Regions from separate parts of the Homo sapiens genome. Here regions 1, 3, 4 and 5 are each linked to region 2. Evidence: fine-mapped expression QTL. A gene starts in region 2. Each other region holds a variant in brackets. All regions are shown on one strand. Distances are from middle to middle.

The links.
Region 1: its variant is fine-mapped to the expression of TMED8 in whole blood (INTERVAL, PIP above 0.99). The same link has a PIP of 0.9 or more in blood mononuclear cells.
Region 3: its variant is fine-mapped to the expression of TMED8 in Th1 cells (Schmiedel 2018, PIP 0.95).
Region 4: its variant is fine-mapped to the expression of TMED8 in Th2 cells (Schmiedel 2018, PIP 0.95).
Region 5: its variant is fine-mapped to the expression of TMED8 in whole blood (TOPMed, PIP above 0.99).

The regions. Positions count from the first base shown.
Region 1 is chr14:77,318,412-77,324,027 of GRCh38, reverse strand. It overlaps POMT2 (protein O-mannosyltransferase 2), which reads left to right and starts at 3,145. Exons shown (of 21, transcript NM_013382.7): 1 at 3,145-3,594. The coding sequence starts at 3,347. GSTZ1 (glutathione S-transferase zeta 1) reads right to left here and starts at 2,992. Exons shown (of 9, transcript NM_145870.3): 1 at 2,845-2,992. The coding sequence starts at 2,859. RefSeq lists enhancers at 2,329-2,378, 1,910-2,771, 2,649-2,918 and silencers at 2,999-3,378, 3,609-3,658. The variant C/A (reference allele first, on the strand shown) is at 2,676.
Region 2 is chr14:77,373,373-77,379,581 of GRCh38, reverse strand. TMED8 (transmembrane p24 trafficking protein family member 8) reads left to right here and starts at 2,488. Exons shown (of 6, transcript NM_213601.3): 1 at 2,488-2,646. The coding sequence starts at 2,529. SAMD15 (sterile alpha motif domain containing 15) reads right to left here and starts at 2,203. Exons shown (of 3, transcript NM_001010860.4): 1 at 475-2,203. The coding sequence starts at 2,163. RefSeq lists an enhancer at 2,221-2,430 and a silencer at 2,481-2,910.
Region 3 is chr14:77,336,443-77,342,651 of GRCh38, reverse strand. TMED8 (transmembrane p24 trafficking protein family member 8) reads left to right here. Exons shown (of 6, transcript NM_213601.3): 6 at 664-6,209. The coding sequence ends at 881. Among named protein-coding and RNA genes, the nearest start is that of GSTZ1, 19 kb to the right of the region's middle. The variant A/G (reference allele first, on the strand shown) is at 2,509.
Region 4 is chr14:77,411,650-77,417,858 of GRCh38, reverse strand. It overlaps NOXRED1 (NADP dependent oxidoreductase domain containing 1), which reads left to right. Exons shown (of 6, transcript NM_001113475.3): 2 at 3,732-3,925. Among named protein-coding and RNA genes, the nearest start is that of NOXRED1, 8.8 kb to the left of the region's middle. The variant GTGTGTGTT/T (reference allele first, on the strand shown) is at 2,670.
Region 5 is chr14:77,461,080-77,467,288 of GRCh38, reverse strand. It overlaps AHSA1 (activator of HSP90 ATPase activity 1), which reads right to left. Exons shown (of 9, transcript NM_012111.3): 3 at 5,047-5,129; 4 at 4,530-4,647; 5 at 2,603-2,691; 6 at 1,622-1,750. Among named protein-coding and RNA genes, the nearest start is that of AHSA1, 6.1 kb to the right of the region's middle. The variant G/A (reference allele first, on the strand shown) is at 3,040.

The DNA.
Region 1 (5,616 bases), 55 kb after region 2:
GCATCTGGAGTCTGGACCTGGTGCAGGAACCAGCTCTGCATGACCTTGGACAAACCTCTGCCTTTTTAAATCTTCGGCTCCCTCATTTGTAAAACAAAGGTTGCCCTAAAATGATGGCAGGGCATCCTCTAGCAATGCAGCAAGACAAGGAATTCTAATTTTTTGACGCTTTGGTACATATCTCCTTCAACCCCACCTCCCAGCAGTCCTCCGGGCTCTCGGCTGTCCCCATAAAAACAGCTGGCAGATATGCTCACTCACCCCAAAGGTGAGGTCAAAAGCTGGCAGCTCACTGGGGCCCTATCTGGCCCTCAGAATTTCTGTTTGCTCAACACAGTAGTTTAAAATGTTTCAAGTAGTTGCCAATGTTTAAAAATCAGGACATTTCATTCTAGTATGGTGGGTCATGCCTGTAATCCCAGCACTTTGGGAGGCTGAGGCCAGCAGATCACCTGAGGTCAGGAGTTCGAGACCAGCCTGGCCAACATGGCGAAACAACATGGCTAAACAAAAATTAGCCAGGTGTGGTGGTGTGCATCTGTAATCACACCTACTTGGGAGGCTGAGGTATGAGAATTGCTTGAACCCAGGAGGCGGAGGATACAGTGAGCCAAGATCGTGTCACTGCCCTCCAGCCTGGGGGACAGAGCAAGACTCCATCTCAAAATAAATAAATAATAAAATAAAATAAAAATAAAAATCATGATATTTTATATACAACACCTGTTTGTTTTTTTTCTTTAAAAAAATCTGGAGACAGATTTGGGTTCCTAAATAGCAGCAATTGATGGGAACAGACTAATGGCCCCCATCAACCAGCGTATGCGCTCTCAGGTCTGCCATGGCCCATATCTGGCCCACTTTTCTCATTTTTGTTACCTTTGGGCCCTTGGGGGCAGCTGGGTGTGCGATCTCTACTCCAAGGTTTAAGGGGCTCAAAGTTAATTTCTCTGGTACTTCTTCGGGAGCCAGCATTTCAAAGTGGAACCCAGGAAAGACTCGCCAGTGATTAGCACTCATGAATCTTCCCACCAAAACATGTGTATCCCTATGGATAGGGGAGAACTTGAAAGAACTTCTCAGATGCCCTGTTTACTACCCCTCTGACTATAGACATTTCACCAAAGCTCCCTCTCCCCTCTGCCACCCCTAGCATATTAAGCTGCTCTCTGAACTTGCTATTGCCATCCCTGTACTACCAACTCAGTCTGCTAGATGGCAAGGGTGTAAGTGGGAACCTAGGCCCTTCCAAGATGGTTCCCAAGCCCAGCAGTCCCAGCCTGTCCTGAAGGTACCTTTTGTGGAGAAAGTAAAGATGGTCCTGGCACAGAAAGCAGGTGATGGGCAGAAAGTGTCTTTCGAAGAGGAGGAATTGGGTGGCCACAACTGGATCTTCCTTATTTGGAGATGCAACTCCCTTTCCTTACCTAGCCAGGCTACAGGGACTCCTGGTGCCAAGGGACAGGGACTGCTGGTGACCACTAGAGTGTGGCAGACATTAATTAGCTTAGAATCCCTGAAGAAATGCCTTACCTAATGGCTAAATGCCTTTGGATTACACCTTTGGATCTGTACTACGAGTGACCAGAAGCATGGTAAATGCTGCTGCCCTCCGTCACGACCCACAAGCAGGAAACCTGAAATCTCTTAGGCAATTTCTGCCTTCTCTTACCAGTGATAACTATGTAAACCATGCCCCGTTCCTTTCTGCACTTGTAGAACTAAACTTTAAGCCCAAGTATCCATCTCATCAGCACTCCTAGAAGACCTGTGTTTCCAATTCAAATATGCATTCTGATTACTTTAGCAGATTTTATTTTTAAACCATGTCTTACACATGATTTGAGAAAAAGACTCCTAAAATCCCATTTGGAAGAGGGAGGACTATACATTATTAACGTGACGCAAAGTCCCATCTAACGTGCCACCTTCCTTAGTGCCACAAAAGTGGTTCTCAAACTTCATGGCACGTTAAGAACCATCTAGACCGCTTATAAAAACATGCAGATTCTCGAGCCCGTTCCACCAGAGATGAACAGAGTGGCTCTGGAGCAGGCCCCGGGAAGAACATGTGAAAGCCGTGAAGCTCCCCAGGTGATTGTCATGACTGCCTCTCCTCGCTCGGGGCCTTTTTTTTTTTTTTTTGAGCCGGAGTCCCGCTCTTTCGCCCAGGCTGGAGTGCAGTGGCGCGATCTCGGCTCACTGCAAGCTCCGCCTCCTGGGTTCACGCTATTCTCCTGCCTCAGCCTCCCGAGTAGCTGGGACTACAGGCGCCCGCTACCACGCCTGGCTAATTTTTTTGTATTTTAATAGAGACAGGGTTTCATCGTGTTAGCCAGGATGGTCTCTATCTCCTGACCTTGTGATCCGCCCGCCTCGGCCTCCCAAAGTGCTGGGATTACAGGCGTGAGCCACCGCGCCCGGCCCGGGGACTCTTAAAATACAAACATTACTGGAAGGTCACCTCCTGCTAGGGCCAAGAGAAGAGCATGAAGGGCTGCGAGAAATTGGGAGGCTTGGGGCGACGTTTGGAAGCCTTAGTGGAGGGAGGGGTCTGTTATGGGGAGCAGGGAGGGCGGAGCAGAAGTGAAGCGCGACCGGACAGCGACTCCACCCTGCTACGCACTCCCTACCAGGACCGCCTCCTCTGGCCCAACCCTCCCGGAACTTCGAGC[C/A]CCAGCGGGCAGCGCGCAGCACGCAGGCGCAGAGCGTGCCCGGCGCAAAGCACTGCATGCCGGGAGTCGTTGTCGGCCTGGGCGGGCGGTGCAGCTCACTTCTGACCCCGCCCCCCAGGGTCTCCAGGTGTCTAACCAGCTTCCCTCCACCCGGGTGCGCGTCACAGACCTTCCCCGCCTGCATCTGGCACTTCGCGCGACCCCCTCCTCCAGGCCGAGAAACTTCGCGCCTGGGACCTGCCGACGACTAAGGCTCAGTGAGACTCGACGAATCAGGCCCGTGTCTTTCGTCCGGGTAAAGCGAGGGGCTGGACTAGAAAGATCCTTCCGGTCGCCTCTGGCTCGCCCAGCTCTCCCGCCACGCCCCGTACCTGGGGGCTGCTGGGAGTTGCAGTTCCCTGAGCCCGACCCCTCCTGCCCAGTCCCCCCCGCCCCGGGCCGGCCGGCCCTCCCGGTCCCGACATGCTCTGCGCCTCCTGCCGCCTCCTAGCGGCCCGGGCCGCGACCACGCTGCCCGCCCCGCCCCGAGCCCGGGGCCCCGCGCTCCGCTGCAGTGAAGGGCGTTGCATTTCCCGGGGTACCCCGAGCTGCCCTCTTGTGACTCCTTGGCGGGGCGGCTGGTCAGACAAAGTGTGCCTCCGGGCCGGAGGGCGACCCAGAGGAGGGGGAAGATGCCGCCGGCCACGGGCGGAGGCCTGGCAGAGTCCGAGCTGCGTCCCCGGAGGGGCCGCTGTGGCCCCCAGGCTGCTAGGGCCGCAGGCCGGGACGTGGCCGCTGAGGCTGTGGCGCGAAGCCCCAAACGGCCTGCTTGGGGCTCACGGCGCTTCGAGGCGGTCGGCTGGTGGGCCCTGCTGGCCTTGGTGACGCTGCTGTCCTTCGCCACCCGCTTCCACCGCTTGGACGAGCCGCCGCACATCTGGTGAGTGATGGGAGGGACTCGGCGGGCACCATGGCAACCGCGACGGGACGCCGCCCTCTGATTGGCCCGAGGGTACGGAGGGGGCGGGATCTATAGGAGGAGGGCCACGGTGGAGGGGAACTTGAGGTATCGGGTGGGTTGGCCTCTGGCGAGGTGCATTCTCTGGGAGGGGGATCGTTTTGCTCTGGTGGTGGGGCAGTGGGATTCTTAGTATCTGAGGAAGCAGCCCTCATGTCTTCCAGGTTATGCTACAGTGCATCACCTGGCTTGCAAATTGTGGCTTTTAAAGGTGCTTTCAACTTTCCAAAGAGAATTGCAAATTTTTGGGTACAGAATTTTCTAAGGCCTGAGTTCCTATGTCTGCAGGATTTTCAGGCATCAACAGAGGAGAAAATACCTAACTGTGTACCTTTATCCTATAGGGCAAGGACAGTTTGGGTGTTCAGGTATGGTGACCAAAGGATTTTATGAGGCAGAACTCTTCTTGTGAGAAGAGATTTATTTTCTTAAAGGTTTTAGCTTGTACTATCCAGATACTGGGTGTCAGAAATGGAATTCTTTAAGCAAAAAGCAGGCAAGAAAACAGACTGTCAGGGTTGCTTTATTTAGAAATTAATAAATTAGCTTGTTATTGTGTCGTGACTGCTGGCAGAAGATGAGACTCCTGGGTTAGAGACAAAGGACTTTATTACAGGAAATAGGATGCATGTTAGAAGCAGTTTCCCTTGCCATCCAAGTCCCACAGGGTGACGCTATGGGTTTAAATGGATGACTGCACAGGCAGTGGGTTGCATCCAAGTGAAGGAACGACAAGCTTGGAAAATCTGCTGTTTTATAGAAGGCAGTACGCAGACCTCCTCTTTGTCCTGGAGGGAGACACTGCCTCTTCTCTCAAAGTTGCTTGCTGCAAACACAACCATGAGAAATGGCCCAGGTGAGATGCAGTCAGGGCCTTGCATTCTTGGTATACCCAGAATGATGTGTAGAGGCACGAGCAATCTGACAGCCTCTCTCACTCCTCGATTCTATGGTCTTGGCTTCTAGCAGATTTTCACATGAATATACAACTCCCCTGGCTACTCACATCTTTTCAGTTTGTCCCTTACAGCATTTAATTAAGGTTGTTGTCAATGGGACTCTAAGCAGCAGAATAAGGCCAGCTTACAGTATTTACCTCAACCATGCCCTCCAGGGTCCTGGATTCAGCCACTTGTGAATAAGTCCTGGGGGCACCGAGGAATCTTATTTCAGACATCTGGGCTGCAGTCTAAGACCAGTCTATTAACCACTGTGACCTGTGCACAGGGGTTCAGATTGATCTCTGATCTTTGGTGTCATTACCAGTAATTACAATAGCCCACTACCCTTGTAAAAATTTTTTTAAGAAAGTAATTACCAGGCTGGGCGCAGTGGCTCACACCTGTAATCCCGGCAGTTTGGGAGGCCGAGGCGGGCAGATCACCTGAGGTCAGGAGTTCGAGACCAACCTGGCCAACATGGTGAAACTCCGTCTCAACTGAAAATACAAGACTTAGCCGGGCATGATGGCGGGTGCCTGTAATCCCAGCTACTCGGGAGGCTGAGGTGGGAGAATCACTTGAACCTGGGAAGCAGAGGTTGCAGTGAGCTAAGATCGCACCATTGCATTCCAGCCTAGGCGACAAAGCCAGACTCTGTCTCAAAAAAAAAAAAAAAAAATTAACTACCATGATTAATGGAAAGATATTTTGTGACCCATTCTTCCTTACACTAACATATTACTTGGAGGAGTGCAGGCCACTCCAGGATTTTTGTTAGATTTTTATTTGGATCACCATCAAATTTGATTACCATTACAGTGGTTTAAACCACATGGGCAGTGTCACTGAACAGTTGCAGCCTCAATCACTAGACAAGGCATAACCTAAGTAAGGCCCTTAGGATCTCAGGAGAAGCATGTGATTTGTATCAGCCGCATTGATAGAAGGTGGTGCTGATCTGTGTGTTTGCACACCTATGAGGGAGGTCTGCGTTTGGGAGTTG
Region 2 (6,209 bases):
GTCTCTACTAAAAATACAAAAAATTAGCCGCGCATGGTGGCGGGCGCCTGTAGTCCCAGTCCCAGCTACTCAGGAGGTTGAGGCAGGAGAATGGCGTGAACCTGGGGAAGGTGGAGCTTGCAGTGAGCCGAGATCGTGCCACTGCACTCCAACCTTGGCAAGAGCGAGATTGTGTCTCAAAAAAAAAAAAAGAAAGGAGGTCTATATACTCTTCTTGGTCTTTTATTCAAGGATTGCAGAGAAGTGTAATCACTGGAAGAGGAAAAACAAACCGATGTGACCCTCCCTTCCTCTCCCAAAATACAAATATACATCAGTGGCAAGGCCAAAATTAAAATCCAAGTTACCTCTACCACAGTCTAGGACTTTTTGATACTCCTTCCGGTAAAGAGGTAAGAGCTCAGGCCAAGTTAGAAGGAATAAGAAGTAGACGGATGACAGCATGTGATTTCAAAACATCTTATTTTTGTATACCTTGTATTGAGGGAAGCCTAGCTGGCTAATCCACTCTGCAACTTCCTCTGGATCCCAATTAAGATGCTCAAATTGTAACTCAGTCCCTTTTTCTGGCTGGGTTTCGTCATCTTCAGAGACCCGTTCCTTCAACTCTTGGGACAAATCTACAACTTCCTTTTCATGAACGAACTCACTTAATTCTGTCTGAGACTCTGAGGGATCTGAGTATGAGCATTCTTCACTGACATTAAGCAATTTTTGGAGTGGTTGCAAAAACTCATAATGTGTACCAATTGATTCTTCACTTTCTCTGAGAGATCCTAATGCGTAATATTCTTTTCTAAATTTGTCACTTAGTGACAACTTTCCTCTTTTAGGCTCACGGTGCTCTAGCTCATCGTTTCCTACAGAATACTTAGACTTTATTGGTTCTGGCCTGTCTTCCTTGGAAAATTCTACATGTGTCTCCCTTGGTTTGGTTTCATCTGGTAACTCTAGAATTTTCTCAGTTGGCTTTGTTTGTGTTTTCTCTTCAACTTGTGGGTTGATCTCCTGTGGTAGCACTGGACCAGTCTCCTCTGGTGGCTGTGGATTTTTTTTCTCATTTGACTTTCTTATCTCTTCTGGACTTTCTGGTTTCATCATTTCTGATTGTTCTAGAATTGTTTCCTCATTTGTTTTTCTTGATTCTTCCTCAGGAAACTCTAATTTGATCTCTTCTAGTGGCTCAGGAACGTTCTCATCAGTAGACTTTCTTGGCTTGTGGTCTGGAAAGTCTGGTTTAGTCCGCTCAGGTAGTTCTGTCCCTTTCTCCTCAGTTGCCTTTCTTTGCATCTCCTCTGGAACCTCTGGTTGAGTCTCTTCTGGAGGCTCTAGACCTGCCTCCTCACTAGACTTTCTTGGTTCCTTCTCCAGAAATTCCAGTCTAGCCTGCTCGGGTGGCTCTGTCCTTTTCTTCTCAGTTGACTCTCTTTGTGTCTCCTCTGGAGTCTCTGGTTTGGTCATCTTTGGTGGCTGAAGATCTGTCTCTTCAAGTGATTCTCCTAGTTTCTCACTTGGAAAATCTTGTTTGGTCTGCTCTGGAGGCTCTAGACCTGTCTCTTCATGTTGCACTCTAAGTGATTCCTCTGGAACCCCCGGTTCAGTCTCCTCCTCTAGTAATTCTAAATTTCTCTCTCTGACTGTGGCCCCCGAAACCTCAGACATGGTTTCCGTTGGTGGCACTGGATCTGGATCTGTTTCCATAGCTGACTCTAGGAACACATCCTCTGTAACATTTGGTTTAGCCTCCTCTGGTGGCTCTAGGTCTGACTCTTTATGCGTTTCATCCATAGGGGCCTCCAAATCTTTGAAAAACTCTCCCATCTCTCTGGATGTTTCCGACTTTACCTCTTGGTGTATCCCTGGTTCAGTTTCGCTTGGTACGTCTCTCTTGGACTCCTTGGCAATTCCTTCCTGGGACGTCCCGCCAGGTTTCAGCTGCACGTTCTTAGCACTGTCTGGCTCCCCCTCTTTGAAGTCCTCTTCCTCGGTCTCTGGCTGTGGCTCTTGGTAAATCTCTGCTGGTAGCTTCGAGTCTGCCTTTGCCATGGTGTCTGGTTCGGCATTTTCATACAATTTATGAAGTCCAGGCAGTTCAGGCCTCTCAGGCTCCAGCTCTCCATCTTCATCTGGGCCGGAATCATAATCCTCCGGGACTTCAGCCATTTGCAGCTTAGCAGACGCGCCGCGGCTTCCTAGCAACCCCAACTTCCGATAGCGTCTCTATGGATACCACGATTTCCGGCAGTGTCTTCCTGACTCTTCCCCAGGTTTTGTTTGTTCTTTCAAGCCCTGACTTTAAAAATCGTCTGTCACAAGCACGCAGTAACCCTCCCTGCGGCCTCATCGCCAGCCTCAGCGGGCCAGAGCTCCTGTGGCCGCCCCTGGGTCAGCTAGCTTTTCAAGCGGCCGCCGCGCCGCTTCTTCCGGCCTGCAGGCTGCGCTCGGCTGTGCTCGGCGCTCGCTCGGCCTTCGGCTGTTTCCGGAGCCACTCGCGGCTGGCAGCGGAGAGCTCCGTGCGCGGGCTGCAGATGTCTGACCTGCAGGCGGCTGAGGGGCCGGGCTCCTGGAGCCCCACAGCCCGCCCAGGGTCGGCTGGCGGCGTCGGGGACTGCCAGGGAGTGGAGGGGAGCCAGGCGGCCGCCTCAGGTACGCAAGGCCGGGGCGCTGGCGGGTGGGTGCCGCCCGGCCTCAGGGCCCCGCACCACGGCGCGAGCCTCCGCCGCGCTCTGTCCTGGGCTTCCCCGCGGAGCGGACCCACCTCGGCAGCCCCTTCGCGCGCGGGGCCCCTTCCCCGCCGCTGCCACCACCCGGGCCCTGGGCTCGAGGTTATTTTCTACTCACTCCTGTTTCGAAATGCCTTGATTCCTGCCCCGCTTCCTTTCTGAGATCTGCCCAAATGGTAGTGACAGGGTGGCTCTGCCCCTGGCGCCTCTTCAGCTTCAGTTTCAGCTTCAGCCGGGGTTCGGGTCCCACCTCCGTCTGCTAATCACATCTAGACTGCCGACCCGAACCCTACTGGCCTCGCCGCCCCCTGCTTCTGGCTCCCCACCCTATCCCCATCTCAGTCCCCTGCCCCAGCCTTACCACGCGCCTCTCGGCCCCCACCCGGGTTGGCAGCCTTGCCTTCCTCTGCCAGAAGCCCACTGCGCCCTAGCCTTCCTGCACATAGGCCCCCTGGCCTTGCTGCCATCCTCTCCATCGCTTAGAGTGGGAAAAATGAAAAGCAGAGTTGAAATAGGTAGTGTCTGGGGTCTTTTGCTTGAACACAGTAGCCAAAGCAAGAGCAGGAATTAAAAATTTGGCCTACCTCCCTCATTCTCAAGACCCTCATCCTCTTCTTGTCCAGGACGACGTCTCCATTTCTACTAACGCGAGTTCCTCCGTGTGTATTATTTCAGTGTCCAAAGACAAAAGAGTCCATCCATCACACTTTCTTCTTTCAGCCTCCTGAACACCACACACGATGCAACTGAAAGGATGCTCTTTTGAAATACGAAAGGGTAGAGGGGAGAGAACTTGTCTTATTTAAGTAGCAAATATAAATTAATTTTCTAGGTCTGAAATTAAAATAGACACCATAAAGTATAATGGTTGAGGCACTACTGTGGAGCCAGGGTGCCTGGATTGGAGTCTGAAACGTCAGTTTCCTCATCTGTAAAATGTGATTACTAAAAATATCTGCCTCATAGGATTATTGTGAGGATTACTTGAGCTGCTTTGTCTAAGGCATTTGGGGTATAGTCCATGGTACACACTATACTCGTCTCAACCATTGTGACAGTAAGGTCTCTTTTTGTTCAGTTGAACTTCCTGTGCCGCCAGAGGTGTTCTTGGATGTATGGCTTCCAACATGGTGCCTTTTTCTGTCTTCTACTCTGATCCCAAGTATCTTCCCTCTCATAATGCTGCCTTATTCAAACACACACACAACTCACCCAGCTCTTTCCCATGATTTTATATTCTTTTACTTTAAAACACCTGACAAATTTTGCCTTTTTTTCTTACGAACTCTGCTTTGTATTAAATTAAAAATCGTTGGCATATATTTAACATAGCAGTAGAAATTCTAAGCATAATGTCTAAAAGACTAAGCAAGTAAACACAGAAAGGTAAGTCTTATAACACTTGTCCCTTGCATGCGCCAGTATTTACAAATTAAGCATGTTTTTACTTCCCCTTTAGGTTCTCATGTGTTTATGGCAAACGTACCCACGCGTTTTAGATAGATGAGTGTGTTTTTTTTTCCCCCTGACATCTAATTCATTCCTGCATTCACTTCCTCCCAGGACATTGGTAGAGATGCTTACTTTCCTTCCTCTTACCCTCAGAATGCAGGGTGATAATTTTTTTTTTTAATGTCATGTAGGGGTTTATTATAGTAGCCCAGAGCAAGCTCTTCCTCTTGAGGTAGGATTTGTTGCTAATAAAATAATAGTAATGATAACCTACAGATATTGAATGCTTATTCTGTGCCAGAGGTGGAAAAAAATTTATATTTTCTGATTTAGTCATGTCAACAATCATTTTCTTCCCATTTTACAGAGGAACAAACTACAGCTGAGAAAGGTTAACTTACCTGTTCAAGTTAGCGCAAGTTTTTACTGTCTGGATGAAATTGTCATCTTGTTATGATGAAGTCTATAATTGTTTGTTTTTATTGGCCATGAATCAAGTATTGGTACTCGCAGACAGGTTATGGTCTCTGTCCTCAAGGTGTTTTCAGTTTGATGAGATGAGAGATCCATTTCAGGGAGAAACAATTAACAATTCAAAACATTATATAATTGGGCGTCTTTTATTACAATTCTTTATCTACTAAGAAACCTGCTTGGAGTTAGGAACGGAATCTCTCTTGCTTGTTTATTTATCTAGAGCCCTTGATGTTGTGTTTTAGAGGTTTCGCAAATATTTGCTGAGTTTGATGGTGAGAGAAAGTCTGAATGCAGAGATCTGGATGAGCATCTAATGAATGTGAAGAATTAGGGTTGAGATAACCAAGAATGTTCCTTGGGTTAGAGCAATGGTTTTCAACCAGGTACGATTTTGTATCCCCAGGGCATGGCAATGTTTGGAAACATTTTTGCTCGTCACAACTGGTGGCAGCTATTGCTGACATCTAGTGAGGATAGGCTAGGGATGTTTGCTAAACATCCTGCAAGGCACAGGGCAATCCCCATAACAAGGAGGTATCTGGCTCCAGATGTCAGTGGTGCTGCTTTTGGGAACGCTGTGTTAGAGTTAAGCTGGGCTTCCAAAGCAGTGTGGAAATACTATATTTGGCCTGGACCAGAGGCTTGGGCGTAAACCCCAAAAAACTGCTTTAAACTTGGAATTCGTTTGATTGGATCCTTCTGCCATCTTCCTCTAGAAAATGATACAATGAGTAAGCAATAGAGCTCTAAGAAAGAATGAAATTTAATGAGATTTCTCTCACCCTTTCAGAGAGAAAACAGCAGTAAGAAATGGAATTGGATATTCAGGTGTTCTGTTAGTCCATTTGGAATACCTGAGACTGAGTAATTTATAAGAAAAGAGTTTTAATTGGCTCATGGTATTGCAGGGTGTACAGGAAGTGTGGTGTTGGTATCTGTTTCTGGTGAGGGCCTCAAGAAGCTTAGAATCATACTGAAAGGGGGAGCAGGTATGTCACATGGCGAGAGTTGGGAGTGAGAGAGAGAGAGACGGGAGGAGGTCCCAGACTCTTTTAAACAACCATATCTCAGGTGAACTAACTGAGTGAGAACTCACTTATCATCAAGAGGATGATGCCAAATCATTCATGAGGGATTCATCTCCACGATCCAGTCACCTCCCACCAGACCTCACCTCTAACATTGGAAATCACATTTCAGCGTGAGATTTGGAGGGAACAAACATCCAAGCCATATCAGGTATTGTTGAGTTAAGGGTTTTGGTTTTTTGGTGTATCTTATTCCTTCAAAGCAGGAATGTGTCATTATCCAGAATAACCATAACTTGTTTTTTAAAAGTGTTCTCTGCAGAGAATACCTATTGAGTGTCTTCATGTTTGTTAGCTGAGGTTTTGGTGAAAAGGAAGGAAAGGATTTATGTTCTTATGAACTAAGCTCTCCAGTGGTCATGGTGTTCTTATTGTTTTATGCATTGTAATTGTTTTTAATAGTCTTTTATTTGAGGCACCTGGGTTCTTCAGTTCCCCAGAGGAGAGATAAATCATTCTTTAATTATGA
Region 3 (6,209 bases), 37 kb after region 2:
TACACACTACACAAAGGATGGCCCAGAGGCATTTTTCAGATAACGTAAGAGTAGGTCCTAAGCATTAGTCTTATTCCTCTTATTCCTTGATTTTCTTATATAATCTTAAAGTCAGTCCTTTAACGTGCTTCTTCATAGAACAGCAAGCGGGCAGGGAAACCTACAGGTATCTGGGAAAGCGGAGAACCTTGTATCTTATTTGCTGCTTTTCAGGAATCCTAGGGTCACTTTATAGCACGTTTATCTGCAATTCCTATCTTCGTTAGCTAGTCCTTTCACCTACTAAATGATAGAATATCGGGATCTTTTCTTCTAAATATCTCTTTCTCCCTCTCAGAAATGTCCAGACACTTCTGAAGCTAGGAAGGCTCCTCTCAGGCTAAATCATTTTCTCAGTGGAGACATTATTGGCATTTGGGATGGGACATTGTTTGTTGTGTAGGTACTATCCTGATTTTAGCACTCCTGGACCCTTGGGTACTAAATGCAGATATCACCTAATAGTCACTGTGATGACCAAAAGATCACCAGACATTTCCAAATGTCTGTAGGAGGGCAATAATCTCCCCGCTCTGTGAAAGCCACTGGGTCACCTGGTCCTTCCGCTCACCTTCAGGCAGGACTTACGCAGTCTCTGAACACTTTGCCATTTTGCTCACGCAGAACCCGTTCCAGCTGGAGATGTGGAGAGAGGCTCCAGGAGCTCCTTGCGGGGTCGCTATGGGGAGGTCATGCCTGTGTACCGGCGGGACAGCCACCGAGACGTGCAGGCTGGCAGCCATGACTACCCTGGTGAGGGCATCTACCTGCTCAAGTTCGACAACTCCTACTCCCTGCTGCGCAACAAGACTCTCTACTTCCACATCTACTACACCAGCTGAAGGACTGCTGGGACAGGGGCAGGCTGTATTTGCTGGCTGAAGCAGGCTGCCAGCTGGTGCCTCTTGTTTGGGATAGGCAAGAGCCAAAGGTTCATGGGGGGCTGCTGAGCCTCACACCCTGTCTGGCATGCCTGACTGTTGGCCCACGTAGCTTTTTCCCCTTCTTGGCTTCTGCAGGTGGTGGTGTAGTGCCCCTGTTCTGTAGTCCCTGACTCATACCCTTCTTGCTTCAGACTCCAGCAAATTCCCTCTTGAAGGCACCTATGGGGCACAAGCCTAAAAGGAAGCAGGGCGATGTTTTTTAAAAATAGATTCATCTTGGCACAGGTTTATCATTCAGATTGCTGCCCTCTCCTCTCCCACAGCCCTTATTGCCAGTGCATTTAGTGGCACCCACTCTCTTCAGTTGTTGAGGTGCCAGAAGAGGGAAAAGCACATTGCCCATGAAGGAGCCCCATCTTTTGGTTGGAGAAAGCTCTATCCAGCCTGTCACCACTGCCATATTCCTGCCTGCTGGTTATTCTTGGTCTCTGCATAGCTGGGAGACCACACTGCCTTTGGAGGGCTATTACTATTCCTGATGGTAGACACCCCCTCCTTTCTCTTTCCTAAGTCTATGTTTTTGCCATTACAGCAAGAACATTCATGCAATCTCAAGTGATGATCAATGTAACCTAAGATCTTGTGGGAAGAAAAACTGCCCCCATTATTTCCTATTCCAAGAGCTGGTTTCCCTTACTATGGGCACTGGCAGTCAAAGTGGAGAGAGTGGAAATTAGGTACTGAATTGATGTCAGAACCCACATATTTGAAAGTCGTGTTACTTTTTTTTTTTTTTTTGGTATAATCAAAGAAGGAATGGTATCATCTGACAGAGAAGATGAAAAACAAAAAACACTCCAGAGTCCCCACCGCTTTTTTTTGTCTTTAGAGTAGGAGTGCTGTTTAGAAATGTTGCTTTGGAATCAAATGCAGTGAAACCCAATCAGGTTTCCAAAGTTTCTGCATTTAGCTTTCTTGCATTGAGGGCTTAAAGCTTTTGGTGTTCAAAGTCCCTTAGTTTAGGTGATAATGAAGCTTCACTATTGCTGCTGATTGTATTTGTTCTTTACCTGACCAAAGCTTGCATTTCCCTGGTGACAGCATTTCCTACTGTGTCACCCCTGAGGCTCAGGAGTGCCACAGAGTGCAGGTAGTGCTGCAGCCAGTGGTCACCAGAGCACCAGCTGCTGGGCCCCCAGGCGGAGGAGGAGACGGAGGTGAGATGGGACCTCAGCAGTCTCTGTGTTTGTACCTCCCTGTCTCTTACTCCTCGTGTTATGTCTGTTACTGCCTACGAATTCTGAAGAATAATTAGATTTATTTATTACTGTATTTATTTTTTTAGCACATTTCATTTTGCCTTTGAAACAGTTTCCATCTGTTTCTCAGAAGGCTTCCCATCTGTTCTGAGCCACTGAAGCCCCCTCTTTTATGGAGTTAAAGATGATATTTTTAGGAGAATTTGGGAAGCGATGATGTTTTATTTCTGTAGGTCAGTCCTGTGACGGCTTTGCGAGGAGTATGGCCCTTCAGAGATGGATGATGCCACCTTACTCCATGTTTGGGGTACAGTCCAGCACTCCCC[A/G]TGAAAAATTCTAAGTTGTGAGGGAATCTGCCCATTTGCTGGAGATTGAGTGCAGAGGAATTCCCTAACCAATCAGAGATATCCCGTGATTCCAGGATTTCAGAGTCCTTTGTCTCCTCTGAGGTGTCACCTTCTTTGTGATGTTTCCTTTGACTCATTGTTAGATTCCTCACACCAAGGGTCTATCCCTACAGTAGCATAACTCAAGGAACGGGACTCTTCCCAGTGGGTCCCTAGTAGCATCTACATCACATCAAAGGGCAATATATCCTGCACCTGCTCTTCCCCTCGGAGCAAAGCCCCAAGTGGGATAGGATGTTGGGGACTGCCAGAGCATTCCCATTCTCTGAGCAGCATCATACCTCCATTATTTTATATTTGCAAATGTGTTTTGTAGAGGATTACACTGGCCAACATTTATATACCTTTAAAGAAATTATTTTAGTGACTGTCTGTTGAGGCAGTGAAGAGCTGATTTGCTGTGTGTCATCCCATTGGATAGCTGAGTGACCGCTCTTGCATCATTGAAGTTGAATCATGCCTTAGCTAACTGAATATAATCTTTGTAAAATAATTTTCTACTGAGCTGTTTTCTAGTCAGCTAAAGCCTTGCTTATTTTTCCTGTTTATTATTAACTTCTGCCTTTCTCTCAAATTGAAACAGTCAGGCCATACACAGCAAGCTCCCAAGGATAACACTTGTTATTATTTATTTTCACCATGAGATTCTCTGCTTATTTTCTTTGGAATCCTAGTTCTGTTGCATCAGGGAAGCCTAAGGGACTTGTTCCCCTCACCTCTGTGTGCCTCTTAGGGTCTGGTCACTTTTGAAGTCCTGGGCATGGTTACATTTCATTCATACTGGTTTTTCACCAACTGTCAGGGTTTCTGTGTTCCATTAGCACAAAATAGCTAAAAGAAGATATTTTCACTGTCTAATTCACTATTTTCATGTTACATTTCTGAAATAATTGAACTTTAGGGGCAAGATACTACTTACTGAAGCACAGGTAATTACTGAGAACCCACAGCCCAGCAAATTCTAAGAGACAGTCATTTCCTCAGCCCCTCCCAGTCCAAATTTATAGACCCAAACAATGAAATGAAAACCGTTTGCTTTGATCCTCACCCTGTTCTCTAGAGCACAAACAAATAGTAACAAACAATTGAAAGAAAGTGCTTCATAGTAGGAGAGAGATTGGAATTCTCTATAGTGACTGAGTTCTTAAATTTCTTTAGTTTTAGTTTTGCCACTTTGTTGAGAGATGGGCCTTTTAGAAAGGAAGACATATTTAAAGTATTGATTTCTTTTCCCCCAGTGTTTTATTGTGAAAAAATTTCAGCAAACAGCTTAAAAGAAATATAAATATATTGTAAACCAAAAAGTATCTGAGACAGGTCTCAATACATTTAGAGGTTTATTTTGCCAAGGTTCAGAGCCCATGATGGGGCCTCAGGAGGTTCTTAGAACATGTGCCCGAGGTAGTCGGGTTACAGTTTTATACATTTGAGGGAGACAGAAGGTCCAGGCAAAGCCATAAATCAATACATGTAAGGTATACACTGGTTTGGCCTGGAAAGGCAGGACATCTTGAAGATGGGGGTTTCCAGGTCAGAGGTAGATCAAAGAGTTCCTGACTGGCAGTTGGTTGAGAGAGTTAAACTTTACCTGAAAAGATGAAGTCAGCTTAAGTTAAAGTAAGGGAGGCTTGGCTTAAGTCATGTAGATGAAGCCTCCAGGTAGCAGGCTTCAGAGAGAACAGATGATGAATTTTTCTTTTTAGGCCTTAAAAGGTGTCAGACTCTCCAGAAAAGACCTAATAAGAGAAGGAGATTCTCTACAGAATGCAGTTTCCCCCACAAGAGACAGCTTTGTAGGGCCATTTCAAAATACGTCAAATAAATATATTGGGGGGTAAATTTCCTTTGGGGCCTGCTGTCATGTGATGCTATACCAGAGTCAGGTTGGGATTTGGTATTTTATTGCCACAAAGGGTCTGTTTGGTTAGTCTTAAGATCTCTGTTTTAATGTTAATGCTGGTCAGTTGTATTTAAATTCCAAAGGGAAGAGGGTAATATGAGGCACCCTGTAATCTGACCATAATATGAGGCACCCTGTCTTCCCATCATGGACTAGTTTTTCAGGTTCCTTTGAGATCCCCTGGGCCAAGACAGGGGTCCATTCAGCCGGTTGGGGGATTTAGAATTTATTTTTGGTTTGCTGTATATATATGTATACACACACTCCCCGCATAAATGTAAAAATTTTAAACTACCAATTCCTAGGCAAAGATGATTCTAACATTCTGTTCCTTTTGACAAGTGTCCAATTAGAGAATGCTGAGAATGTCCCCTGCATATCGGCTCTGTTGGAGAGCCCCTGATTTTTAGCAGACCTGTTTCATTCAACATGGGTTACCCAGGAGGTGGTCTTCATAAAAATGTTTCTTGGAGGCCAGGCGCCGTGGCCCACGCCTGTAATCCCAGCACTTTGGGAGGCCAAGGTGGGCAGACCACCTTAGGCCAGGAGTTCGAGACCAGCCTGGCCAACATAGTGAAACTCCGTCGCTACTAAAAATACAAAAAATTAGCTGGGCGTGGTGGCGGGCATCTGTAATCCCAGCTACTCTGGAGGCAGAAGCAGGGAGAATTTCTTGAGCCCAGGAGGCAGAGGTTGCAGCGAGCCGAGATCATGCCACTGCACTCCAGACTGGGCAACAGAGCAAGATTCCGTCTCAAAAAAAAAAAAATTGTTTCTTGGTCTCCATCTTTCAAGAAAATACATCTGTGCTGTATTTTCCCCTTCCCTCAGGCCATGATCTCTGCTGTTTTCCTTACTAACTGGCATGTCAGTACAAGAGTGATTGTGAAGCTGCTCCGGAAGGGCTTTATGCTAACCTCTGTTGCTTGATGACATGTCCTCAGGACTCTGATATTAAAACTCAATCCTTAGATAACAGGTAGCTTTATCATGGAAGTAGGTAGCAATTTGGAATTAGACCATTCTTAGTTATTTTTTTCTTAATGAATTGATACATGCACTTTAAAAAATATTTTTGTTATTTTGGGAAGAAAAACTCAGACTTTTAAAAAAGTGTATATTGTCCCATTATAATATGTATATGGAAGAGTGAAATCTGAACGCTGTCTTATATTAAGCAGTAGAATTAGGTATTATCATAAAAAGTCTTAATCTGTAGGGAATATGAGTTTATGTTTATGAGTCCTGCTCAGTCCCTCTTTGAGAGAATTAGTTGAAACCCAGACTCTAAAGTCTGCTTTTATATTTGTTTGTTAAGACCACTTATCTGCAGAAGGTTGCCTTTTAACCCCAGTGGTTCTAAGGTGTGGAATTGAGTGACCCTAATATTTACATAAGAGACTTGTTTTAGTGGAGCATAAGGGAGGGGCATAAGTTACACCGTTTTGTGCTGCTTGAGAACTGTCTTTTAAAATTGATCACAACGAGGGAAAACAAAATAAAATTAGGGGGCAAAGGGTAGGAGTATGGGGGGAGGGGAGAGCAAACCTATCGAATATATCTTAGAATTTTGCTCAGAAATCACTGCTGCCTCTCAAGTGTTGCATTGTCCCTGCCTAAACCAAGAAGGCTAAACAAAGCCCCTCCTGTTTGAATTCTTAAGGTAAGAAATTTCTAAGCTAAGAAAACACTATTGCCTAAAACCAATGATAGTGGAGCT
Region 4 (6,209 bases), 38 kb before region 2:
GAAAAGAAGAACAAAACTGCAACACAGAGAAAAAAACAAACTGGCAGTGATAAGTCCTTCCCTATCAGTAATTATTTTAAATGTAAGTGGATTAAACCCATCAATCAAAAGATACCGAGTGGCTGAATGGATAAAAAACAAAAACAAAAACAAGATCCAACGTATATCTTGTCTTCAAGAGACTCACTTTAGATGTTAGGACACATATAGGCTGAAAGTCAGACCATAGAGAAAGATAATTCCACGTAAATGGTAACCAAAAAAGAACAGGAGTAGTCATACTTGTATCAGACAAAATAGGTTTTAAGTCAAAAACTGTCATGAGAGACAAAGAATGACATGATGATAAAAAGACCAATTCACCAGGAAGACACAACAATTATATATGTACTTAACATCAGAACATCCACATATATGAGGCAAATATTGACATAACTGAAGGTATACAATTATAGTAGGAGATTTTAATACCCAACTTTCAATAATGGATAGAACAACCAGACAAAAGGTTAGTAAGGAAACAGAAGACTTGAACAACATGACACACCAATTAGAACCTAATGGACAAGTACATAACACTCCACTCAGCAGCAGAATACACGTTCTTTTCAAGTGCACATGGAACATTTTCCAGGATAGATCACGTTAGGTCACAAAATAAGTCCTAACAAATTTAAGAAGATTCAAATCATACCAACCGTCTTTTTTTTTTTTTTTTGACCATAATAGAATGATACTAGAAATAGCAGAAGAAAAACTAGAAAGTTCACAAATATGTGGAAGTCAACACAACTCTTGAACAACCAATGAATCAAACAGGAAATCACAAGGAAAATTTGAAAATATCTTAAGTGAAAATGAAAACAACATACCAAAACTTATGGGTTGCAACAAAAGCAGTACTATGAGCAAACTTTATAGGGGTAAATGCCTACGTTAAAAATAAGAAAGGGCCGCCCCTACTGGGAGGTGAGGAGCCCCTCTGCCCGGCCAGCCGCCCCGTCCGGGAGGGAGGTGGGGGGGTCAGCCCCCCGCCCGGCCAGCCGCCCTGTCCGGGAGGTGAGGGGCGCCTCTGCCCGGCCGCCCCTACTGGGAAGTGAGGAGCCCCTCTGCCCAGCCACCACCCCGTCTGGGAGGTGTACCCAACAGCTCATTGAGAACGGGCCATGATGACAATGGCGGTTTTGTGGAATAGAAAGGGGGGAAGGGTGGGGAAAAGATTGAGAAATCGGATGGTTGCCGTGTCTGTGTAGAAAGAGGTAGACATGGGAGACTTTTCATTTTGTTCTGTACTAAGAAAAATTCTTCTGCCTTGGGATCCTGTTGATCGGTGACCTTACCCCCAACCCTGTGCTCTCTGAAACATGTGCTGTATCCACTCAGGGTTGAATGGATTAAGGGCGGTGCAAGATGTGCTTTGTTAAACAGATGCTTGAAGGCAGCATGCTCCTTAAGAGTCATCACCACTCCCTAATCTCAAGTACCCAGGGACACAAACACTGTGGAAGGCCGCAAGGTCCTCTGCCTAGGAAAACCAGAGACCTTTGTTCACTTGTTTATCTGCTGACCTTCCCACGCTATTGTCCTATGACCCTGTAGATTGCTGTCTACAGATGCACTGCAATCCTTATCAAAATCCCAATGACATTTTTCATGAAGATAGAAAAAAAATCCAAAAATTGATATGGATGAAGCTTGAGGACATTATGCTAAGTGAAATTAGCCATGTACAAAAAGACAATACTGCATAATTCTACTTATATGAGGTATCTAAAGTAGTGGAACAGAAAGTAGAATGGTAGTTTCCAGGGGCTGGGGAGAGAGAAAAATTGTATAGAGTTTCAGGTCGGGTGTGGTGGCTCATGCCTATAATCCCAGCACTTTGGGAGGCGGAGGTGGGCGGATCACTTGAAGTGGGGAGTTCGAGACCAGCCTGGCCAACATGGAGAACCTCATCTCTACTAAAAATACAAAAATTAGCTGGGCGTGGGGTGTGGTGACACGCGCCTGTAATCCCAGCTAGTCAGTAGGCTGAGGCAGAGAATTGCTTGAATGTGAGAGGTGGAGGTTGCAGTGAGCTGAGATTGTGCCGCAGCACTCCAGCTCAGGCAATGGAGGGAGACTGTCTCGAAAAAAAAAAAAAAGCATATAGAGTTCCAGTTTTGCAAGATGGAAAGGTTCTAAAGAGCTGTTGCACAACTATATCTATATGTCTGTCTGTCTGTCTATCTATCTATCTATCTATCTATCTATCTATCTATCTATCTATCTATATGTATTTTCTTTTTTTGAGATCAAGTCTTGCTCTATTGCCCAGGCTGGAGTGCAGTAGTGGATCTTGGCTCACTGCAACCTCCACCTCCCGGGTTCAAGAGATTCTCCTGCCTCAGCCTTCTGAGTAGCAGAGACTACAGGTTTACACCATCATGCTGGGCTAATTTTTATATTTTTAATAGAGATGGGGTTTCACCATGTTGGCCAGGCTGGTCTTAAACTTTTGACCTCAAGTGATCCACACGCCTTGGCCTCCCAAAGTGCTGGGATTACAGGCATCAGCTACCATGCCTAGCCACAATGTGCATATAATTAACACAACTGTACTGTGCACTTTAAAAATGGTTATGATGGTGAAGTTCATGGTGTGTGTGTGTGTGTGTGTGTGTGTGTGT[GTGTGTGTT/T]TTCCTGAGACAGGGTCTTGCTCTGTCACTCAGGCTGGAGTACAGTGGCACGAGCACAGCTCACTGCAGCCTCAAACTCCTGGGCTCAAGCAATCCTCCCACCTCAGCCTCCTGGGTAGCTGGGACTACAGGTGTGCACCACCATACCTGGCTAATTCTTGTATTTTTTGTAGAGACGAGGTCTTACATGTTGCCCAGGCTGGTCTCAAACTCCTGAGCTCAAGTGATCTGCCTGCCTTGGCCTCTCAAAGTGCTGGGATTATAGATGTGAGCCACCGTACCCAGCATGTGTTTTTTAACCACAATAAAAAAAAAAATTGAAAGCTGTCTGCACAGAAACAAACAAAACATGAGGGGACTGGCCCACAATGTGTTATAGACATTACAGTATGCTGTATAATAGTGGCTGTTCACAGTGGTGTCCTGAGCCAGTGAAATGATTAAATATTCAGACTGTTTAACCAGGCAAGCATAATACATGTAACAAAGTATGTTCATTTAAAACATTTTAAATTTTGGTCCCTTGAAAAGGGTTATACTTTTGTTTCTGGAAAATTAACTCAGGAGGAACATTTCATTCCCTAGTGAGGCTGGATAAATGACACACAGTTGAAATGTCTTATCTCCGAAGTACTTAAGGTGCCACCAAGCACCTTAAATGACAAAGCAGAAAATGTCAGAGAATGACAGTTAAGAAGAACTAGGCCGGGTGCGGTGGCTCTCGCCTGTAATCCCAGCACTTTGGGAGGCCAACACGGGTGGATCACGAGGTCAGGAGATGGAGACCATCCTGGCTAATACAGTGAAACCCTGTTTCTACTAAAAATACAAAAAATTAGCCGGGAGTGGTGGCAGGCACCTGTAGTCCCAGCTACTCGGGAGACAGGCAGGAGAATGGCGTGAACCTGGGAGGCGGAGCTTGCGGTGAGTCAAGATCACCCCATTGCACTCTAACCTGGGCGACAAAGCAAGACTCTGTCTCAAAAAAAAAAAAAAAAAAGAAAAACTAGTGTGTGCATGTATTTATGTACGTGTCTGTGTGTTCATTCTCCAGAGCATCATTAAATAAGAATCAAAGTTCCAGACATCTCTCAATTGGCTCCCTTAATTCAGCCACTCCTGAAGAGTTTAAGGTGGGCATCATTGGAGGTGGCCACCTTGGGAAGCAGCTGGCTGGCACACTGCTGCAGCTTGGCCCCATCCCTGCTGAAAGCCTGCGGATCTCCACTCGGAGGCCAGAGACTCTGGGTGAGGAGCAGTGTGTGGTAGAAAGGGGGCTTGGTTGTGCTGTGTAGGTGTCAACAAAGCCATTTTGAAAGGGTCCTCCAAAGAGGAATCCTTGCATACAGCGTGTGGAGTTCTCAGCTTGCTAGCCCTAAGAAAGGTTAGAAGCATGGCCTTTTCTCCTGTTCTTTAAAGCGACTTTTTTTCTCCATGTATGTGTTTTATATCCATGTCTCCTCCCTGTGCCCTTGGTGGTGAAGTATCTTTCCAGATCTTTGATACAGGGAAGCTTTCCATACAGAGTTCAGATCTTCTAACTGAATCAGTTAGGGTCTGGTTGGGTGTTAAACAGTTCCAGGCATTTGCAGTTGGCCTTATATTTTTAAAAATGACATTTACTGACTTTAAAAAAATGTTTTGTGGTCGGGCGCGGTGGCTCACGCCTGTAATCACAGCACTTTGGGAGGCCAAGGCGGGCAGATGACGAGGTCAAGAGATTGAGACCATCCTGGCCAACATAGTGAAACCCTGTCTCTATTAAAAATACAAAAATTAGCTGGGCATGATGGTGCGTGCCTGTAGTCCCAGCTACTCAGGAGGCTGACGCAGGAGAATTGCTTGAACCCAGGAGGCAGAGGTTGCAGTGAGCTGAGATCACACCACTGCACTCCAGCCTGGAGATAGAGTAAGACTCCGTCTCAAAAAAAAAAAAAAAAAAGTTTTGTAATGATTCCATTTATGGTGATAGAAATCAGAACAATGATTTCTTCTGGGGAGATAGACTGAGAAAGTCCCAAAGCAACTTTTTCTGGGGAGATGAAAATGTTTTATATCTTGAGAGAGAGGTATGGGTTAAATGGGTGTATGCTTTTGTCAAAACTGATCAAACTGTACACTTCATATCTGTGTTTTGCATTATATGTAAATTATACTTCAATAATAAAAAATGTAAAATAATATGCATATTGTAGAAAATTTGTCTACAAGGAAGGATACAACTACCTATAATCTACTCGGGTTATTTCCTTCCCGTGTTTTTTTTTTCTCTAATTATATCAGTAATCGACACTGTATACAGTTGTTTGTATTCTGTTTTTTTTTACATAATGTATCATGAGCATATTCTCGTATCGTTTAACATTTTTTGAAATAATGATTTGCCCACACCTGTAATCCCAGTACTTTGGGAGGCCGAGGTGGGCAGATCACCTGAGGTCAGGAGTTTGAGACCAGCCTGGCCAACATGGTGAAACCCAGTCTCTACTAAAAATACAAAAATTAGCCAGGTGTAGTGGTGGGTTCCTGTAGTCCCAGCTACTCAGGCGGCTGAGGCAGGCAAATCACTTGAACCCAGGAGGCGGAGCTTGCAGTGAGGTGAGATCACATCATTGCACTCCAGCCTCAGCAACGGAGTAAGACTCTGTCTCAATTAATCAATCAATAAGAAATAATGATGTTAAGCCCCTCCACTTTCCCACAGTAGAAGGTTACCCCAGCAGGCTTTGAGCACAGTCTCTTGCATCTCCCTAGCAGGGTGTGCTTGCTGTACCTGGTGTTTGGATGCACAGACTATGTAGTTGTGCCCAGCAGTGGCTAAGACCACTAGACACCCTACACTATTCTTCCTTTCTCTGTTTTCATCTCAGGATTTAAAATTTTAATTATATTAGTAAGAGATTAATGTAAAAAAATAGATTTTAAGGTTGTATAATATCCCAAAGTATGGATGTACCATAATTTATGTAACTATGCCTTATTTAGTTGAACTTCCTTGTACATAATTTTCCAAATAAAGTTATTAGGCCAAAGAATTGGTACAGCTTTATTAAATTTTTTTTTTTTTTTTTTTTTTTTTTAGACTGAGTCTTGCTCTGTCACCTAGGCTGGAGTGCAGATCGTGGAGAGCACGATCTCGGCTCACTGCAACCTCTGCCTCCCGGGTTCAAGCGATTCTCCCGCCTCAGCCTCCTGAGTAGCTGGAATTACAGGCATACGCCACCACACCCAGCTAAATTTTTTTGCATTTTTAGTAGAGACGGGGTTTCACCATGTTAGCCAGGCTGGTCTTGTACTCCTGACCTCAGGTGATCTGCCTGCCTCGGCCTCCCAAAGTGCCGGGATTACAGGCGTGAGCCACTGCACCTGCCCCTAAAATATTATTTCTATACAATAAATGGCACACAGTTAAAAGAGTACAATTTGATGTTTTGACACGTATACAACTGTGAAACCATCACAAGGTAATGAACGTATCCCATCACCCCCAAAAGTTGCCACTTGTCTTTGGTAATCCCTTTCTGTCCACTTC
Region 5 (6,209 bases), 88 kb before region 2:
GAGCTGGGACTACAGGCGCATACCACCATACCTGGCTAATTTTTGTATTTTTTGTAGAGACAGGGCTTCACCATGTTGGCCAGGCTGGTCTCAAACTCCTGGGCTCAAGTAATTCACCCGCCTCAGCCCCTCAAAGTGCTGGGATTAGAGATGTAAGCCACTGTGCCTGGCCTACTCCATATATATGAAATCAGTATCATTTTGCTGTGTTCGATTACCCAACGGTGCCGCTTTTACTTTTAATAAGACTTTACTATTTTTTAAAGTAGGTAATACGAATACATGGTACAAAATTAAAAATAAACAGAAGGTTAAAAATGTTAGGAATCCTCCCATACAAAAGTATTTTAAAACTCTGAAAACTTTAGCTAGTTTGGAAGCAGAGATTCAACTGAAGTCTGTGTTGAAGTGCTAAATTCAATTCACATGAAGACCACAGCTATGCTGCTAAGTCCTTCAAGGCAGCAGGCACCAAGTAGAACCAAGTTAGCCATCGAATGCAGTCTTTGGCATAGCCAGGTCATAACACATCTCTGGAGTCAACTAAGATAACTTTCTGAAGTACAGTACAATTTTGTTTATACACATCTTTTTAAATTTCTAGAAAACCCAGTCCATTTAATTGCTTCTCCAGTTCTTGGTTTTCTAAGGGGGAGAGAACTTATCACGAGAGTATTTTGGGTGCAGGCGCACAGACATACTAACACCCATATACTACATGGTACCTCTTAATTTATGGCTGTATTTACATTTTTGTTTAAAAAATAAGATCTTGAAATTTTGTCCCAGAGTATATGGGAACTTCCACATATCCTAACCACCTTTACTATCAGATAATAAAGCTGAATACGGTCATGTTTCTCAACTCCACACTATAGCAGCAGAATGGCACAAGTCAGCTGTGCAACACAAAGAAGCCAGGAATTCTTCTGTGCTACAGAGTAACCAAGAATGGCCATTCACTTTTCTAGTAAGATTCACTCAGTGGTTTCTACTTATATGACCCAAAACTGGAACAGGCACGGTAGTGTGCACCTGTAGTCCCAGCTACTCAGGAGGCTGAGGAAGGAGGATCGCTTGAGCCCAGAAGTTCAACGTTAGTCTGGGCAACATAGCAAGACCAGGTCTTTTGTTTTTAAAATAAATAAATATGGCCGAGCACAGTGGTTTGCACCTGTAATCCCAGCACTTTGGGAGGCTGAGGCAGGCAGATCACTTGAGGTCAGGAGTTTCAGACCAGCCCATCTCTACTAAAAAATATGGTGAAACCCCATCTCTACTAAAAAACATAAAAATTAGCTAGGCGTGATGGCGTGTGCCTATAGTACCAGCTGTTCAGGACGCTGAGGCAGGAGAATTGCTGGAACCTGGGAGGCAGAGGTTGCAGTGAGCTGAGATTGTGCCACTGCACTCCAGCCTGGGCAGGTGACAGAGCGAGACTCCGTCTCAAAAAAAAAAAAAGAGAATAGAGGGAGGGAAAAATTCACTTTGATGAAGGCCTCATGGCTCCAGTTGTGAGTTTGTGAGTACCTCTTCTGTACACTGCTGAAGGGATATGCCCCCAACTCAAGTCACCTAGAAGGGCAGATGGCATGAGGCCTGAAGGACAAGACTTACTTACCTCTTGGGTGGTAAACACTCTATAGAGCTCCTCTGGTGACGTCAGGAAGGTTTCCTTAAGAGTGATCTTACAAGTGGGGATTTTGACTCCAACAGGTCTGGCCTGGGTTTTTGAAGGAGCAGGCTTAGCCTGTGAAGGTGGCAGTGAAAATGATCAATACAGAGTAATGATACAACCTCAATCAACGTGGCTTCAGAGACAGTTGTACCATTCATTCTCATAAAAATGTTCACCTCCAAGGGTAATTATTCCAAGGGGTTTGAAGGGAATTTGAGTGTGTAGGTGTTTCAGTCATGAGGGTAATGATTCTGGAAACCTCCTCAATTCCCAGTAAAAATAACCACTCTACAAGGAAGACCCTGATAGTCAAATAACAAATCAAATCATTGAGATATTTTTGAAGAGCTCAGTGTAATTCTCAAACAATTTCTATGTTTAAATAGCTGGAAGCGGTTTTCTCCCCACTTCCAGAGTATCCACTTCACTATGCTGACAAAAGAGCAACAGGGCTCTAAACCAAGTGCTGAGCTTGAACCACAAACTTCCATCTCTAGATAAAGTACTTGCTCACCCTGAAAATTGGGGAGATTGGGTGAAGACAGGGATGTAACTCCATTTCTTGATGGGACCTCTAATATCAAAGTATGAAATATCAACACACCAATTAGACTGAAGACTTATATAGGTGAAGTCCATCCTTTGTTCATAACCTCCTAACTGGTGCTAAATGCAATCAAGAGTCAGACTTTTAACTGTCTGATAGCTCCTACTTGCTCTAAAGGTCTGCGATAAATGAATTAAAACCAGGTTAAAGATGGGTGAATGAATGCATATTGCAGGCGCTCTGAAAAAGCACCATGAGCAGATCGCAGGCTGGTCTGGCTTAGAGGTTAGGGACACAGAGAGCTGATATGTGGAATTAAGAAGGCGGTCTCTCAAGTTCCTTTGCAGACAGTCTCCCACCCCAGGAAAACCATTTACCTTGCGCTCCTCAGTTTTCAGTGCTGGCTGCCCCACTGGGTCTACTGACTCTCCATTCATTGTAGGTAAGATCATGCCCTGGGTGAACTCTGAAAAGATAAAATTCCAGCTCATGGAAGTTACTTCTTAGTAGCTGAGATCTGGAGTTTCATTACAGCTTGACAAACACAGCCATCCTACCACAGAATGAGGTTATGACCAGAAAAGGAAGAGGCTATTTTTACATCTTTACTTTTGGCCTATGCCAGACTGGTACCTGGGTATATGCTATAGAATACAGTATGTTCACTGGGATTATTATTATTTTTTTTTTGAGATGGAGTCTTGCTCTGTCACCAGGCTGGAGTGCAGCCTGCACTCCAACTCACTGCAACCTCTGACTCCCTGGTTCAAGCTATTCTCCTGCCTCAGCCTCCTGAGTAGCTCGGATTATAGGC[G/A]TGCACCACCATGCCCAGCTAATTTTTGTATTTTTAGTAGAGACGGGGTTTCACCATGTTGGCCAGGATGGTCTTGATCTCCTGACCTTGTGATCTACTAGCCTCGGCCTCCAAAAGTGCTGGGATTACAGGTGTGAGCCACTGCACCTGGCCACTGGGATTATTTTTAAAAGCTTATCCTGACTCAACTGGAAACATTATAACATATTAAGTGCATGTGAGGTCTACTATGGAAGGATGGCGTGAACGCCGTGGCACTTTGATGACTTCAAGAGTGGGTAATCTACCCAGCACCTATGGATGCATGGTTAGTGCCTTTCCTCCACTCTGCCTTACCTCTGCAGAAAAGCCACAACTAGTTATGGCACTGGTGTACTGGTCCTCCCCAAAAAGGTGTCTATCACCTTCCATCACCTTCTTTGATGGTTATTATACATATTCCAACACCAAGATCAGAATACACTGGCAGAAATGGAATCCCAGGGGAAAGCTGAGCTGACTTCTATTCTAAGCATCTAAATATCCCTGGAGAGTGCATATCAAAGATAGTCCAGACTGTATTCAAGTAATGAGTCCAGAGATGCCAAGTCTTTAGATTAGCGCTGTCCATTAGAAATATAATGTGAGCCTCAAATACAGTTTTTTTTTTGTTTTTTTTTTTTTTGAGATGGAGTCTCCCTCTGTCACCCAGGCTGGAGTGCAATGGCGCGTTCTTGGCTCACCGCAACCTTTACCTCCTGGGTTCAAGCAATTCTCCTGCCTCAGCCTCTTGAGTAGCTGGGATTACAAGCATGCACCACCATGCCCGGCTAATTTTGTATTTTTAGTAGAGATGGGGTTTCTCTATTGGTCAGGCTGGTCTCGAACTCCCGACCTCAGGTGATCCGCCCACCTCGGCTTCCCAAAGGGCTGGGATTATAGGTGTGAGCCACTGTGCCCAGCCCGTAGTGTAATTTATACTCACAGCACATCTCTTGTGTTTTTTGGTCATCCAGGCTGGAGTGCAGTGGCATGATCTCAGCTCAATGCAACCTCCCTGCCTCCTGGGCTCAAGCCACTCTCCCACCTCAGCCTCCCGAGTAGCTGGGATTACAGGCATGGGCCACCGCATCCAGCTAATTTTTGTATTTTTTGTAGAGACAGGGTTTCGCCATGTTGCCCAGGCTGGTCTCAAATTCCTGAGCTCAGGCAATCAGCCCACCTCAGCATCCAACAGTGCTGGGATTACAAGTGTGAGCCACCGCGCCAGGCCATCACAGTACATTTCAGTTTGGTCTAGCCACATCTAAAATGCTCAACCATCATTATTAGGCAACACAGCTCCAGATCTTTCCCTTACTCCGAGCTTATGGACTGACTTTAAGATGAAATAAGCCCCCTCCCCCCAAATCTTTACCCATTTGCCAAAGAAAGGACTGTCCAGGCCCTTAACCAGAGTCTAACAGGTGGAAACTACCTCCTTAAGGCATACAGAACTACTCAAGGGATACCTGTTTTGAGGGTGCTGATGTAAATTCCCATTGCTTCTCTTAGAAGTTTCACCCCTTCTTCCTTCATTAAGGCCACGAGATTTGTGTCAGGCTCATCTTTGGCAAGGCTCACACTAATCTGGGTGAAAGATGAGAAGTAGGTGGTAAATAACTTGAGGGGCACCCTCATTATGGAATGTGGGGGCTGAGCAATCAGGTGACTGCTGACATTTCCAAAGGAAATGCATGAGTACTGCGGTATTCGTACAATCCCCATTAGTGTTCCTTCTTGAGTCCTCTCTGTCAAGTGGCTAATGTTAGTTAGAACCCATGTCACTAGCTAAAGTGAAGAAATTAAAGAAGTGCAAATTGCTCTAGAAGTTTCCAATGGCACCATATGCCTAGAAAATTATCTGCAGGCTAGGGTTCTGAATGCTTGGACCAAGCCTGGGCTATGAATCCTGAATGACAGGTCACTTTTCTCATCTGAGAATAAGAGGATATAGAGGACTCGGATTAGGAGTTATGAAGCACAAACCTCCACTTCATCCACGCTGTTTTCATCAGACAAATTGGGGATCTCCACATGTCCTTTGTATTGTACTCCTGACTTAGAAGTACCTGTCAAAACCAATGCAATGTCATTAGTCCACTCCTTGGCAGGAAAGGTCTCTGCTCCAGGGTCCTAACTGCTACCTCACTTCTGCTGCTTTTGGATGGCTGAACTGATCCTCTTTATTCTGAGAATGCCACATGCCAGATGCAATCAACACCCGCACCCCCAAAAGAAATGTCTTTCCTCACCAGGTTACTGGAAACCAACTATGTTATTACAATGTGAGACAAAGAGCTACAGATTTGGTACTAGCATGAGTTATACCATGAGAACTTGGGTCAAAAGCCAGTAGTTCTGCTAGAATACTTGTTTTGAAAATATCAATTTATTTCAGTGCAACTGAAATATTAGGGAACAATTTGATTATAATGAGAAGTTCATGTTTGCTTATATGTGACTCCATCCATGAGAAACACTAGGTGAATACGGAAAGCCTCACCCAGCTACACAGGATACATAAAACACACACATCTCAAACACCTATCTGCCAATGACCTCAGTTTACAGCGTGTGTTGTGAGCCATACCCATCCTCAACGAGTGTAATGTTCCCTCTGATTGTGGATGACTCTCCTTCTACCATTCCATAGTAGTCCTCAAGCTGCAACCCTTCTGATGCCCACCTTTTCCCCCCGCAAGACAGAGTCTTGCTCTGTCGCTCAGGCTGGATTGCAGTGGCATGATCTTGGCTCATTGCAACCTCCACCTCCCAGGTTCAAGCAATTCTTCTGCTTCAGCCTCCCAAGTAGCTGGGATTACAGGTGCGTGCCACTACACACGGCTAATTTTTGTATTTTTTAGTAGAGATGGGGTTTCACCATGTTGGCCAGGTGTGTCTCCAATTCCTGACCTCGTGATCCACCTGCCTCAGTCTCCCAAAGTGCTGAGATTACAGGCGTGAGCCGCCGCGCCTGGCTTTGATGCCCACTTTCACAAATAAACTTCAGGTCTTTTTCATGGTAAAGCACCATATTTATTGTAGTATTCACCTATTTTTTATTTTTTTTGAGATGGAGTCTCACTCTGTTGCCCAGGCTGGAGTGCAACGGTGCGATCCCAGCTCACTGCAACCTCCGCCTCCTGGGT